3 separate regions of the Homo sapiens genome follow, and all the other regions are linked to region 3. The links come from fine-mapping of genetic effects on gene expression. A gene starts in region 3. Each other region holds a variant in brackets. All regions are shown on one strand. Distances are from middle to middle. Region 1 overlaps CLOCK (clock circadian regulator). Region 2 has its middle 6.7 kb from the start of SRD5A3. Region 3 holds the start of CLOCK (clock circadian regulator).

What was found. PIP is the estimated chance that this variant, and not a neighbour inherited with it, causes the effect.
Region 1: its variant is fine-mapped to the expression of CLOCK in monocytes (TOPMed, PIP 0.95).
Region 2: its variant is fine-mapped to the expression of CLOCK in whole blood (INTERVAL, PIP 0.98).

The regions. Positions count from the first base shown.
Region 1 is chr4:55,430,256-55,434,489 of GRCh38, forward strand. CLOCK (clock circadian regulator) reads right to left here. Exons shown (of 23, transcript NM_004898.4): 23 at 1-4,234. It also overlaps a transcript of TMEM165 not described here. Among named protein-coding and RNA genes, the nearest start is that of TMEM165, 36 kb to the left of the region's middle. The variant G/A (reference allele first, on the strand shown) is at 1,878.
Region 2 is chr4:55,337,399-55,341,639 of GRCh38, forward strand. No RefSeq gene overlaps it. Among named protein-coding and RNA genes, the nearest start is that of SRD5A3, 6.7 kb to the right of the region's middle. The variant T/C (reference allele first, on the strand shown) is at 1,559.
Region 3 is chr4:55,544,512-55,548,752 of GRCh38, forward strand. CLOCK (clock circadian regulator) reads right to left here and starts at 2,398. Exons shown (of 23, transcript NM_004898.4): 1 at 2,271-2,398. It overlaps LOC124900704 (a long non-coding RNA gene), which reads left to right and starts at 1,354. Exons shown (of 2, transcript XR_007058122.1): 1 at 1,354-2,099; 2 at 3,105-3,378. RefSeq lists silencers at 1,394-2,023, 2,144-2,243, 2,304-2,673.

The sequences.
Region 1 (4,234 bases), 110 kb before region 3:
ACTATATCCTATTCCACTAAATAATGTTTCCCTGAGGAAACCCAGGCAGCTTACAAAATACTGTTATAAACACTCACAACAAAACCTGCAGAGTATTTTATTTAAGAAAAACAAGGAATGTAGTGTTATGACATAGGGGGAAAAAACTATGCAAAACAGTCACATGGAAAGAAAGTATTTTAATTTTTAAAATCCAAGTTTGCTTAATTTCTTGTGAACTGTTCAACACTGTTTTAAATATCCTGAATAACTGTGCCAACAAAATTCATCCCCAGTGTTTCCACAGGAGACATTAAAATTAAAGACCAAATTATACTATTTTTTTCCTTTAACCAAAGTATTCTTTTTCTCAGTCCTTTTTGTGCAAAAATATTACAAGAGCAATTCAAATGGAAATGCTGAAATGACATGCCAACATTTCAGGGCACATTTAAAACACTCAGAATAATTCTTGAAATTATTATATTCTAAAATGTTACTAGCAATCACTTTTAGATTAGTTCTGTACATCTACTCACACGGATGCAATTTTCCTAGACCTCTGAAAAATAAACAGGCTCATTGGTCTCTTTTGGTGTCCACACAATAGGCAAGATAGGTTTACAATAGTGTTTAAATCAAACTAGGCATCTACAATCTCTTGACTCCACCACATTCAAAACAAAAATCAAAGTTCATTTGGCTATCTTGAAATCACTCCCATAAACCAACTACGGTTCACTGGACCTAAACATTTCTCAGAAATGTGTCATTTTATATAATTTCACCTAAGTAAGTGATGATTTGGGGATCCTTTAGAAATGGTTAACGCCTAAGAATAAACTTTATCAAAATGAGTAATTGCAATAAAGTGCTTGTTACATTTCAAAATGATGCTTTTAGACTGTGGTATGTTGTTTTAAAAGTGTGTGCTATTCCTTCCGTAAAGGATCCCCAGGCATGAGAGTTGGGTCTTCTCACCTGTCTCATAAAGCAGCAGCACTATCTTTTGGTAGGCTGACAATAGGCACATTACCCATGCGGATGAGGCTATACTAGTGCTATGGCAAAAGGGGAAGTAAATTAGAAAAGTGGGAGGCATGTAGAGGGTTCCTATTATAGTTATATACAAATATATTAAATATACTATAAAAATAGTCGATTCTATTCCTTTGCAATTACTTCAGAAGCTCCTTTTAGAAGAAAGCTCACCCAATCCAAACTTAAAAGGTTCTCTTTCTCCAAACACTTAAAATGGCAAGTGCCTTTGTGCTGTTTCTTCTCTACCATTCAAAAATTCCAATCAGCTTGTCCTGGCTAGAAAGACTCACTCAGCAACATTAATATCCAGTGTTTACCCCCTTCCAACAGGGACTCCTGTGGGACTAAGGGCCACAGGTAATTGGAAAGGTTATAGACTTGAATGCGTTTTACACAAATATTCATCAACAAACTTTCAATTACCAAAGAAACAGAAAGAAAAAAGCAGAAATACTAAAGTAAAATGCTATTTGCATTCCACTTTTAAAAAGTTTGCCTCAATGTAGTGGAAACATCTGAAAACATGTTGAGTAATATCCAGTTTAAAAGAATTTTCACTTGTCTGCGTAGAGTACTATTTTAAGGATCCCTTTCTAAGGCTTCCTGAACAAGGGTTCTTCTCCCTTCAACAGTGCTCTTGATGGAGCTGGACTGCTTCAGTGCTCCTAGCGTCAAGCAGACTGCTTTAAGGCAATGACCAACAACTACAGCACTTCTGAAGACCAAACATTTTCACTATTTTGCACTGAATGTTCTATAACAAACTATTCCAAATCACTGGCATCTTGTTATTACTATTCCATTCCTAAGCCAGATATAAATGACAAAGGAGAGCACAGCACTGTCAAGTTACCCCC[G/A]GAATTTGGGATGCTCGAAGGCTAGACCGTAGTATTTACTCACATGCTACCTGCATCTCCCATACTTTTCTCCAATATTTTCCATTCAAAAAATGAAGTACTTTTTAAGTGTCTCGGTTCTGGTTTGACACCACTCTAAGGAGCAACTTTATTAACCCTTCTAGTTCTCACTTGCATTTGTTAAACAATACTGACTCTCCCAAAACTATGATAACTGCAAGTCCAAAGCACGGTAACTGCAGAGTAGCTAGCATTTTTCCTGAAACTCAGTAGTTTCTTACCTAAAAAGTACCACCCAGAATAAGTGTTTTTAAGAAAGTGAGAATAAAGCAGAGGGAAGACTTTTTTTTTTTTTTTTTTAAAGCTGGAAGGTGTTTCTATTTGGTATCTTTAAATGCTATAGATTTGGGATTTTAACTAACAGCTTTGGCTATAGAAATGAAGAACAGACACTGCTGAATCTTCATTTGAATGCTCAAGTTTCATGGGGCAGGGTGGGGGGCGGGATAGCTTTGCAACCCAAATTTAAGAGAATCAGGAGGAAAACAAAGCAGCAAAGAGGCAGCTGGTGCTTACTACCTCTTCCACTACTACGCTTCAGACTGACAGAAAAGCAGCTAGCTGCTCCTTTAAATTAGCAATGGTTAATTCTAAGCAGGAAAAGATGAGCTGCGAAGAACAGTAAGAATCATAAAGGAAAATTTTAATTTTTTCCCCCGACTATTTGTGGAGATGGGAAATAATTGAAGGGGCTGGAGTAGGACAATGTGAGTAAACAGTTTAGACGTTTACCTGGGGCTTGTCTTATGCTTTGTTGCTGTCAACCTAAGTAGTACTCACAGTTCACCATCTTTTAAGTGTGGTATGTAGAGGACAGGCCTCAATATAATAGTTCTTCATATCTTTTGTTAGCTAAATCCGTATCACTAGGTATTGCCAATAAATAAATGAGGCACAACTCAGATATATATGGAATGGCATAAGGTCAAGAAAGGCAATTTGAAAGGGGAGAAGAACAATGCTATTGCCATATTCCACAACATCCCCCTTGTCTGTGTACATATGCTCAGGTACATACATATTCTGACAACTATTCTTGATATTCATGGGAATGTGGGAAATCTCTACTGGATGGTCATTTAGCTAGAAGAGCTCCTTGATATGTTAATTACTGATTGATATCTAGTCACACTTCTTTTGTAGAAGGGTAAGTACCAATTTTCTTTGGTTGTTTTCTTTTTCAACATTAATGTTCAAAGTAATTGTAGCCAGGTAGAATTTTCTGCAGAAAGACAAAGTATATGCCTTAAGGATAACAGCAAAGCAGAGGACAGAGAAGTCTTAAGAACTGGCTTAGCATTCCCCTGACCTCTTTACCTAGCAATTCTGCATTAGGTTAATCTTCATTATTCAGAACCTTTTCTGTTTTAACAACCTCAACTCTGTTACACATTTTCTTTTGAGGTCAATTTTGATTTATTACACTTGTCCTCTCCTCCCTTTCCTCAGTAATAACATTTTTTATATTCTAATAATGTATTTTCTACTAATCCTCTTTTGTTCTATCACTGTAAATTTCATTAGTACCATAAAATCTGTAAAATGTTTTTTAAATGTATGTAACTTGTATTGGAATTTATTACTTTTAGAATATGATATTGCCAAAGGAAATCTTAGTTCACGTTTAGAAGGCATGTGAGTTACAATATTCTAATGTTGTAGTGAAGGCATAGCCAAATCCCTACCCCTTCTTTTTTCTTTGTAGGAATATCAAGATCATATTGAGCAAATATTTCTGGTAAATTCTTAAATGACTAAAGAAAAATGCTGATTTAGGAAACAATTTTAGGATCACATTAATAACTATGATAGTGTTAGGTTATCATCTTTTATTTCTAAATTATTTGTACCTCCAGTCCAAGAGACTGATAGCAGTCTTCAGAGGAACTTATTAGGAGACTAATAATGACACTGACACCCACATGCTGTTAAAAAGGTACTAAGGTTTCAAAACTGCTACGGAAACCGGACAATGACTTCAAGATGGTGAGTTATCACCTGAATTAAAATCAAGGCACTATGGGGTTTTTTCCCCTCAAATAACCCTGAATCATTTCTGACTAAAAGAAGCATTGAAATTGTGAAGGATAATAAAAAAGATTTCAACAAATCCCAAAAGTTAAAATTCCCATGATTGAGAATGTTAAAAAGTGCCTAAGATGTTTTGTGTGCAAATTTTACCTCTATAACTGAAACATTCTTGAAATTACTTTCAGGCTTGTTGAAAACCATTTACGCAAATATTTCCAACTATGAACTATAACAAAATATGCAATCAAAACTCCCAGCCACCTAAA
Region 2 (4,241 bases), 210 kb before region 3:
GTGGGATTACAGGAATGAGCCACTGCGCCTGGCCTTCTATGGTATCTTTTGATGAAGAGAGGATTTTAATTTTAATGTTGCAGAATGTTTGGATATTTTCCTCTAGTTGCTTTTCATATATTGAATAAGAACACCTTCCTTACCATGAAGCCATGAAAATAGTCTCCTAGGCCAGGTGCAGTGGCTCACACCTGTAATCCCAGAACTTTGGGAGGCTGAGGCAGGTGGTTCATCTGATGTCAGGAGTTCGAGACCAGCCTGGCCAACATGGTGAAACCCCGTCTCTACCAAAGATACAAAAATTAGCTGGGCATGGGGCCGACGCCTGTAATCGCAGCTACTGGGGAGGCTGAGGCAGGAGAATCTCTTGAACCCGGGAAGCGGAGTTTGCAGTGAGCCGAGACCGAGCCACTGCACTCCAGCCTGGATGACAAGAGCAAAACTCTGTCTCAAAAAAAAAAAAAAAGCAGAAAATAGTCTCCTATATTACCTTCTAAAAGATTTCATTTTACCTGTTACATAGGTCTTTAGCCCACCTAGAATTATTTTGATAAATGGAGTAAGGAAGGGGTCTCATTTCTTTCTATCTCTATCTCTTTCATCTCTGTCTTCATCTCTGTCTCTCAGAGTTTGCTGATTTGTCCTAGCCTCATTTATTGTAAACTTCATCCTTTCCCCACTGACACATCATGCAACCTCAAACTTACATCCAGGGTTGACACATGTGGGTGTCTTTTTCTGGACTCTCCATTATGTTCCATTGTTTATTTGTCTGTTCCTGCTTCCTTTACCACACTGACATAATTACACATAGTAACACTCTGTATTAGCCTTGATGTCTCATAGAGTAAGACATCTAACATTTTTCTTCACCTTCAAGAGTGCCTTGGCCACCATGAGCCCTTCTTATTTTCATATAAAGTTTAAAATCAGCTTAAGTTCCTCAAAAGATTGGGGTTTGATTGGGATTATATTTATTACAAAAATCAGTTTAGGAAGAATTGTCATCTTAACTATATGGAGTCTTCTAATTTGTAGGATTAATATACCTCTTCTGTTAAACACATTTTCTTTAATATCAGTAACATTTTATTATTTTATTTGAAGAAGTCTTACGTAGAAAGCAAAAAGTTTCCTCTTCAAAGTTTTCCTTCTTGTTAAAGAATAAATCACAAGTGTTAGAAATAATAGTTTATTTTAAAGACTTTCTTCAAGCCTCCTTGCTTTGTGCTAATAACTTTGTTAAGCCCTATCCTATGTAACTGTTGGACGTCATCACAGACACATTCCAGCTCACAGCGTATGCCCCTTCCTTATTTGGAAATGTTATTGCTTCCTTAAACCTTTCGTAAGCAACTTCTTGTTGTTCTTCTCTGCACTTAACTATTTAGGAAAGTTGCAGGTTATTAGTAAACTGGGTATCAGTTTAAGATTGTGAGGTCCCACTCCAGTCAATGGATGCAGGACACAGCAGTAAGGATGACTCAAATGCGTTAAGGGATAAATATGTCTGCTTTTCCTTTGTTCAAGGATGCTCTCGCCATTGTTCCATCTGCAA[T/C]TGAGCACCCTTTCTGCAGAAAGTAAAGATGGCCTTGCTGAGAGATCTTTTGTCACTGTGATGACTTTTCTTTGTGGCACCAATGATCTATTTCTAACAATTTTGGTATTTCTAACAATTTTGGTAGCAATTGTACGGGTATACATTCTCCTCCGGGGCATCTCTAGTCCTCTCTCATGAGGCGCCATGCCGCCTCTTGTGGTGGCCTTAGGGGTAAGGGGCTGAGACCCACCCGGTGTGATGAATAAATCTGGACTCTCAGCAACACGGAAAGAAACTGGCCACTAACCTGGGGTAAAGGATCCTCATCTACCATGGCGACGACTCTGTGCACAGACCAACGAAGGAGAAGCCACGGGAGTCGATAAAGTACTTCCTTGATGGTGAAATTCCGGAGGGCTGAATGTGTATGTGTGTGAATGATCACAGACAACCCTGTTTGCAGTGTTGTTTGTGTGGATGGTGACAAGTCCTGCTGCTGGACGGAGTTAGTGGGTCCTCTCCGCGGTCCCCTAGCTACCTCATATGGCTTAGGGCGGATCCTGCGTTGGGATTTATACCGGCATGCCAACACTAAGAGGGGCCTAATTCTCCCTCGGGGAAGCGGCCAGAGTGGGAAGTGTGCAAGGGACCTTCAGAGAAGGAAAGGGAGGAAACAGGTCAACCTCCCAGGGCAGGCAAGGCAAGACATACATCCCTGGTTTGAGGGGTTGAGCCTTCTGGGGCAGGCAAAGCACCCCCTGGTTTGAGGGGTTGCACCTTCCAGGACAGGCAAGGCAAGACATCCCTGGTTTGAGGGGTTGAGCTTTCCGCTAATTTCAGGAGACTGAACCTTACCAGTAAGCAACATGGGAAACGTTTCTAGTAAAATGAGGACAAGGAGTAAAGCTGACTCAGGGAGAGGTGAAGGTGATCAGATTCCTTCTGGTAGTCCTTTAGGGTGTATGTTAAAATATTAGAAGGATAAGGAAAGGACCAAAAACACGTAAAAGCAGCTGCTGTCCCAGCTTTACCCTCCTTAAGCAGCCATTCCACCTTGTTGTCAGTGTAAACAAGGGCGTAGCCTTAGAAATACCCTAATCAAAAATCCTTAACACAGTAACCCGCGGATGGCCCAAATGCATTCAGTCTGTAGCGGCAACTGCTTTGCTAACAGAAGAAAGTAGAAAAATAACTTTTAGAGGAAACCTCATTATGAGCACACCTCACCAGGTCAGAACTATCCTAAGTCAAAAAAAAAAAAAAAAAAAAAAAAAAAGCAAAAAGGGAGCTTATTGACTCAAGAACCTTAAAGTATGGGGCTAGTCTCTTAGAAAAAGATGATTTAACATTAACCACTGATAATTCCCTTAACCCAGCAGGTTTTCTAAGGCGGGGGAGAGCAGGGATCTAAATCTTAATTAATTACTGTACAAAGGTCCGACCAGACCTAGAAGGAACTCCCTTCAGGACAGGACAATAGATGTTTCCTCCCGGGTGATTGAGGGAAAAAGACAATGGGTATTCAGTAAGTAATAGGGAAACTCCTGTAGAAGTAGAGTTAGGAAAATTGCCTAATAGTTGGTGAGTTGTTTGCACTCAGCCAAGCCTTAAAATACTTACAGAATCAGGAAGGAGTCATCTATATCAATTCTAAGTTAAATTTGGACTAAATGAGGTCTTATTAATCACAAAGGATAATTGAAATCCCAAACTTACAAGGTTTTCAACAAAAGTAAAGTTTCCTAAAAGTTAAGTGTCACATGTATTATCCTAACTTCTAATCTTGTGGCCTTAGGCAGTCTAGTCCACAGACATGAAGAAAGTTTGCTTTAGAAAAGAATGGTTATCATCTTAGAGAGAGAGAAAAAAATTTGTTTTAAAGGTTTAAGCAAGTTTTGAAACATTAATTGTAAGGGGAATTCTGTGTGTAAACATTGGCTAAAGTTAAAGGGGTATCATCCAGTTTTTCTGTGAACTGGACATTAAAATAAAAGCACAACAGGTTTTTCTTAAAGCACTAACCTGCTCTTTAACAACAATTTAAAAGGTTAAAAAGAGTCTATAAAAATCTTACCTTATGGTCAGACATTAAAATTGGATAAATATGTCCATAAAGTTTTATTAAAATTAAGTTTAACATTAATAACACACTAATATAAAGGTAAAATTCAGCTTATCTGGTATAAAATCATGCAGGAAGCATTGTCAAATATAAAATGGTGTTTGGCTTTCTTTGGCCTAAAAACTAATAAAAATAGGTGCTAACGGAAATTTCTCAGCAAGAAGACACTAAGGACTGTAAAATCCACTGCTGATATCCCCACATTTAAAACAAAAAATCAATTTCTTGGAAATTATATACTTGGTTTCTCTTCCACCTTCTCTTCCCTTAAAACAAAAGGTCTTTTAGCACAGGCGCCGCCCTTGGAGTTTCCAGTACACCAGCACCACCCTGGGGATCACGTTCCCATCAAAGGGTAGAAAGAAGGGAAACTCAAGCCAGCCTGGGAAGGACCCTGCCTTGTGCTGCTACCCACCAAGACTGCTGTTCCTACAGCAGAACGGGGATGGACACAGCACACCCGAGTCAAGCAAGCGCCATTATCATAAGAATCATGGGCCACTGTTCCTGGATCAAGCCCTACCAAATAAAAGCTAAGAAAAGCTTAGTCTATCTCTCTTTTCCTTTCCTAACCCAGTG
Region 3 (4,241 bases):
AATGCCTGTGACCTCTGCAATCTTAAAAATTAAAGTGTAAATAGTCATAAAAGGTATCCCAAACTTCCTTTTTAGTTGATTTTCCTAAAAAATATGAAAAGCAATCATATTGAAAATGACTCAAATCACCATAAATTAGGCAACAAAAATCACACAAATTATTTGGGGGAGGAGGATTTTTGTTTAATCCAGTTTATGAGTCCATAATACACACAAAAATTTGAAAACATGAAGACATACACATAATACATCTCATTTCCCACCATTCCCTCAGACTATTTCTCCCTCTCCTCTATTGTTAGTTTTCTAAATCCTCCCATAATTTCTTTATATAAAGAGCAAACATAAACTTGTATTATTACACCTCGCCCTTAAGATGTAACACACTATTCACAAAGTACCGCTACACCTTGCTTTTTTCACTTCATAGCAAATTTTTGCAATCTTTGCATGTTAGTACGTAGAAAGCTTCCTTATTCTTTTTTCATAACTGATTACGCCTAGCTTTAGAACATTTTCAGTCTGCTTTCTTCAGGCTAACTTTTTTTTTTTTTACTTTTTTTATTATTATACTTTAAGTTCTAGGGTACATGTGCACAACGTGCAGGTTTGTCACATATGTATAAATGTGCCACGCTGGTGTGCTGCACCCATTAACTCGTCGTTTACATTAGGTATTTCTCCTAATGCTACAGGCTAACCTTTCAAGACATTCTGTTCAGCCAACCACTTATCACAGGAATTAATTTCCTTCCCCCAAGCTTTGAAAACCAATCAGATTTGAGGTGTCCCAAGGGATAAGTTTCAGAGAAAGCAATTCATTATCTAAATTACATCCTTTTAAGAATGTTTATTTTCAAACAGGTAGAGGGGAATATTGCACAATTTTCTCTAATCGCTTAAAGCTACAAATCAGAACGCAATCTTCAAAGTGAAATTACCTTTGATTTGGGGGGATCAGCGTTATAGTCAAATCAACGACTGTAAAAGTTTACTTCTTGTGCTTTTCTTCCACTGTAAAAATTTTTTTATTTTTTAAAGAAGGCTAAAAAGCCTTAAAGTCTAATAGCACGGCATTCTAATAGCAGGAAACCACAATCTGATTTGATCTTTCATCTGCCAGGTCAGAGACTAGGCTTTTATCTTGCAGAATTAGGCTCACCTACCATCAACAAGAGGACCTCTACAAAGCTACAAACACTTTCAAAGAATATAAACTCTGCGGCGCTGCGTGTAGGAAATTACACTCCAGGGGCCAGAGCGCCAGAGCCAACTCCAGAAAACCCAGCTTCACTGGCGGAAAGAAATCTACAAACGCCAGCGGCGGTGACGGGGAACGGGAAGCGCGGGTGGACGGAAGAAGAGAAACCGAGCGCCTCGCCGCCAACCCTCGAACCCGCGCGCGGTCGCTGGAGTCAGACGCTAATAGCCGCGCGCTGCCTAGGAACGGAACCCCGGAACCACCACCACTAACGGAACCAGCCCGCGGCCGGCAACGGCGGCCGTTCGGACTGCGGACTGCGGCACGCGGGCCGGGCGCCGGGAGGGCGGGGGTTCCCCGGAGGAGCTGGCCGCCCCGGCGCCCCATTGGGCGCTGCTCCAAACGTGCCCGAGTGGTGACAGGAATAAAGTGGGTCACAAGGCCTAGCGGGTCCCCAGCGAAAGCTCTCTCGGCACCCGGTCCCCGTCTTTCCCCGCCTCCCAGCTGCTGGAATCGGCCGCAGCTCCGGGCGCCCTCAAGCCGCCCGGCCCCGCCGTGCACCCCACTCCCGCCCCTGCCCCGCAGGTAACCCCAGCTGCCCCAGAGGGCCTCTCAGGCAGGGCGGGCCTCGGCCCGAAGTCCCGGGAAAAGACACACTAGAACGACACGCCAAACTTGGGCTTCAGCTCCCGCCTTCCCCACCCTTGGCCGCCGCCCCCCGGCCCCACACACGCCGCCCCCCGCTCCCTCCCCTTCCCCGCGCCCTCACCGTGTGGCTTGCGGCGGCTCCGGCTTCTTCCCTCCCCCACCCAGGTCTCCCGCTGCGGTGACTCGGAACCACTACCCCGCCTGTGTCCAGGAGGCGCCGCGGCTCCCACCTCCAGCAGCACCTGGGGCTGTGAGTGGCGCCCCCCACCCACCCCCCCAAAAATTCGCCGCTCCTGTGGCCAGCTCCTCCTCCCCCTCCCTTCCCTTCCCCTCCTCCACCAGCCCAGGAGCGCGCATGCGCCGCCAAGGAAGCCAACCGGCACTCGGCAGGCCCTGGGCCCACCGGGCGGGCGCCTCTCACCGGGAGCGCTCGCGGCGGCGGCGGCCAGATTTCCTTCGCGCTCTCGCTCTCCGGGGTTTCCTTTTTTAAACCGGCAGCCGCAAGCCGAGTCCGTGATTGCGCCCCCTCCCGGCGCATGCGTCGTCAGCGACCCCGCGGGCTCAGACGGCCGGCGGAGGCTCTGCGCTCGCCCCTCCCCTCACTCTCCCTTTCCCCAGCGCGGCTCGGTGCGCATGCGACTTGCCCCGTTAGGCAGCACGGAGCCGCGCCAGGGGATCCCGGACGCCCGAAGAGACTCCCGCGCCCCTTGGGCCGAAATCTGGCTCTGCAGGCGCACCGTTCCCTGCCCCGGCCGGGAACGGCGCCGGTTACTAGAAAGCCGGGGAGGCGGGGCCTGGTCGGGTGGAGGGCGCGGCCGGCCGGCAGAGCGCTAGCCTTAGGTCCTGGAGGCTCTTTGGCTTTCCCCCCGTATGCCGGGGGCTAGGAGGAGGAAGAAGAGCTTCCTGCCGGATGAGGGATCCAGAGGCCAGAAAAGGAACCCGCTCTCCCTTCCAAAGCAAAACACTGCCGACGCCAGCTTAGATTTTTCGGGTGTTGGCAGGAGACTTTTTCCCCCAGTGGCATCATTCGTGTTTCCTCTCCTGGTGCTGGGAGAGAAGAGTTGCAAAGGCGCCTGGACCGCCAGTAACATCTTCTCCCATCTCCTGAGGGAGCGCGGCTTGGGTTGCTTCTTCTTGGTGGGTGGGCCTGGGGAGACAGGGCATGCGCCCTCGGCCAGAGGAGGGAAGCGAAAGGAGGTCGGGATTTATTTGCTCATTTGGAGATTTTTCCCTTGCCCTTTTATTAAAAATCAAGTGACAGTGTAATGGAAGATGGAGAATGAAGCATCAGAAATAAACCAGGACCCTAATTTGCATGGATTTCCTCGTTGGAACAACGTGTGACTACTACTTATCTTCGGGAAATTACTTATCTTGATGCGTTAAGGCACATTTGGTCCACATGAGAAAGCACATTTCAGTGCTTCTACTGGAAAAGAGATCTTTACAGTCTTAATTCCTAGTAATTCCTATGTTTTAATGAATATCTTTTGGATTTGAAATAAAAGCCATCTTTTTCTTTCAAAAAATGCACTTTTCTGGCCGTAAAATCCTCCCTTTAAAGTAACAGTCACCTCAGTAAACATTTTCAATTCTTGCTGTATGCTCTGGGCAAAAGAACATCAAACTGAAGCACTTATTCAGATCCTTGATCCTGCACCTAAGGATTTTTCTTTCAGGAGTGGGAAAACATGATTTGTTAATTTACCCCATCATATAGCAGAAGATATTTTGGTCGACATTTTTGCCTGTTCAGCATTCATTCCCTATTCTGATAATTTCTTTTGAAGAACTATCATTTATCCACTCTCAGTCCATATGGTCTGAGCAGGACACAAGGGGAAGGCATATTTGAGTTTAATCCTCGGTTGCAAACTACGGTTCCTAAGAAGGGTGTTACGTCTTTACCAATGGGTTTAAATCTGGGAGAATGGAGACCTGGAGCCATCTTTCCACACGTGAATTCTGAGAAAGAAGGCAACACGGAAAAAAAGCAGATTTGAAGACAGGTTTGGCCTAAAGACATGTTTGAGGCCTGGAAACAAATGTAGATTAGATTCCTCTGGAAATTTCGTTAAACCAGTCAGTAAATTCTTGCATCTGTTTTATTGCTTAAACCAGTGAGAGGTTTTCTTTCACATGTAATCAAGAGTCCCGACTGACAAGAGGTAGGTAGCAAGACGGAGGCAAAGTTATTAATACTGATAAGGTAGGTTGCAGCCAGACAAGAGAGGGCTTGAATGCTTTCCCTAGGATGGATTTTTGAATTTTATTCTAGAGACACTGATCCCTCCTTATATTCCCCATCATCTAGAACATATTATCTTCAAAATACCTTTGCCCTTTTTAATGATTTCATTGTCCTCTCAGTCACCAAGATCAAACCATGTCC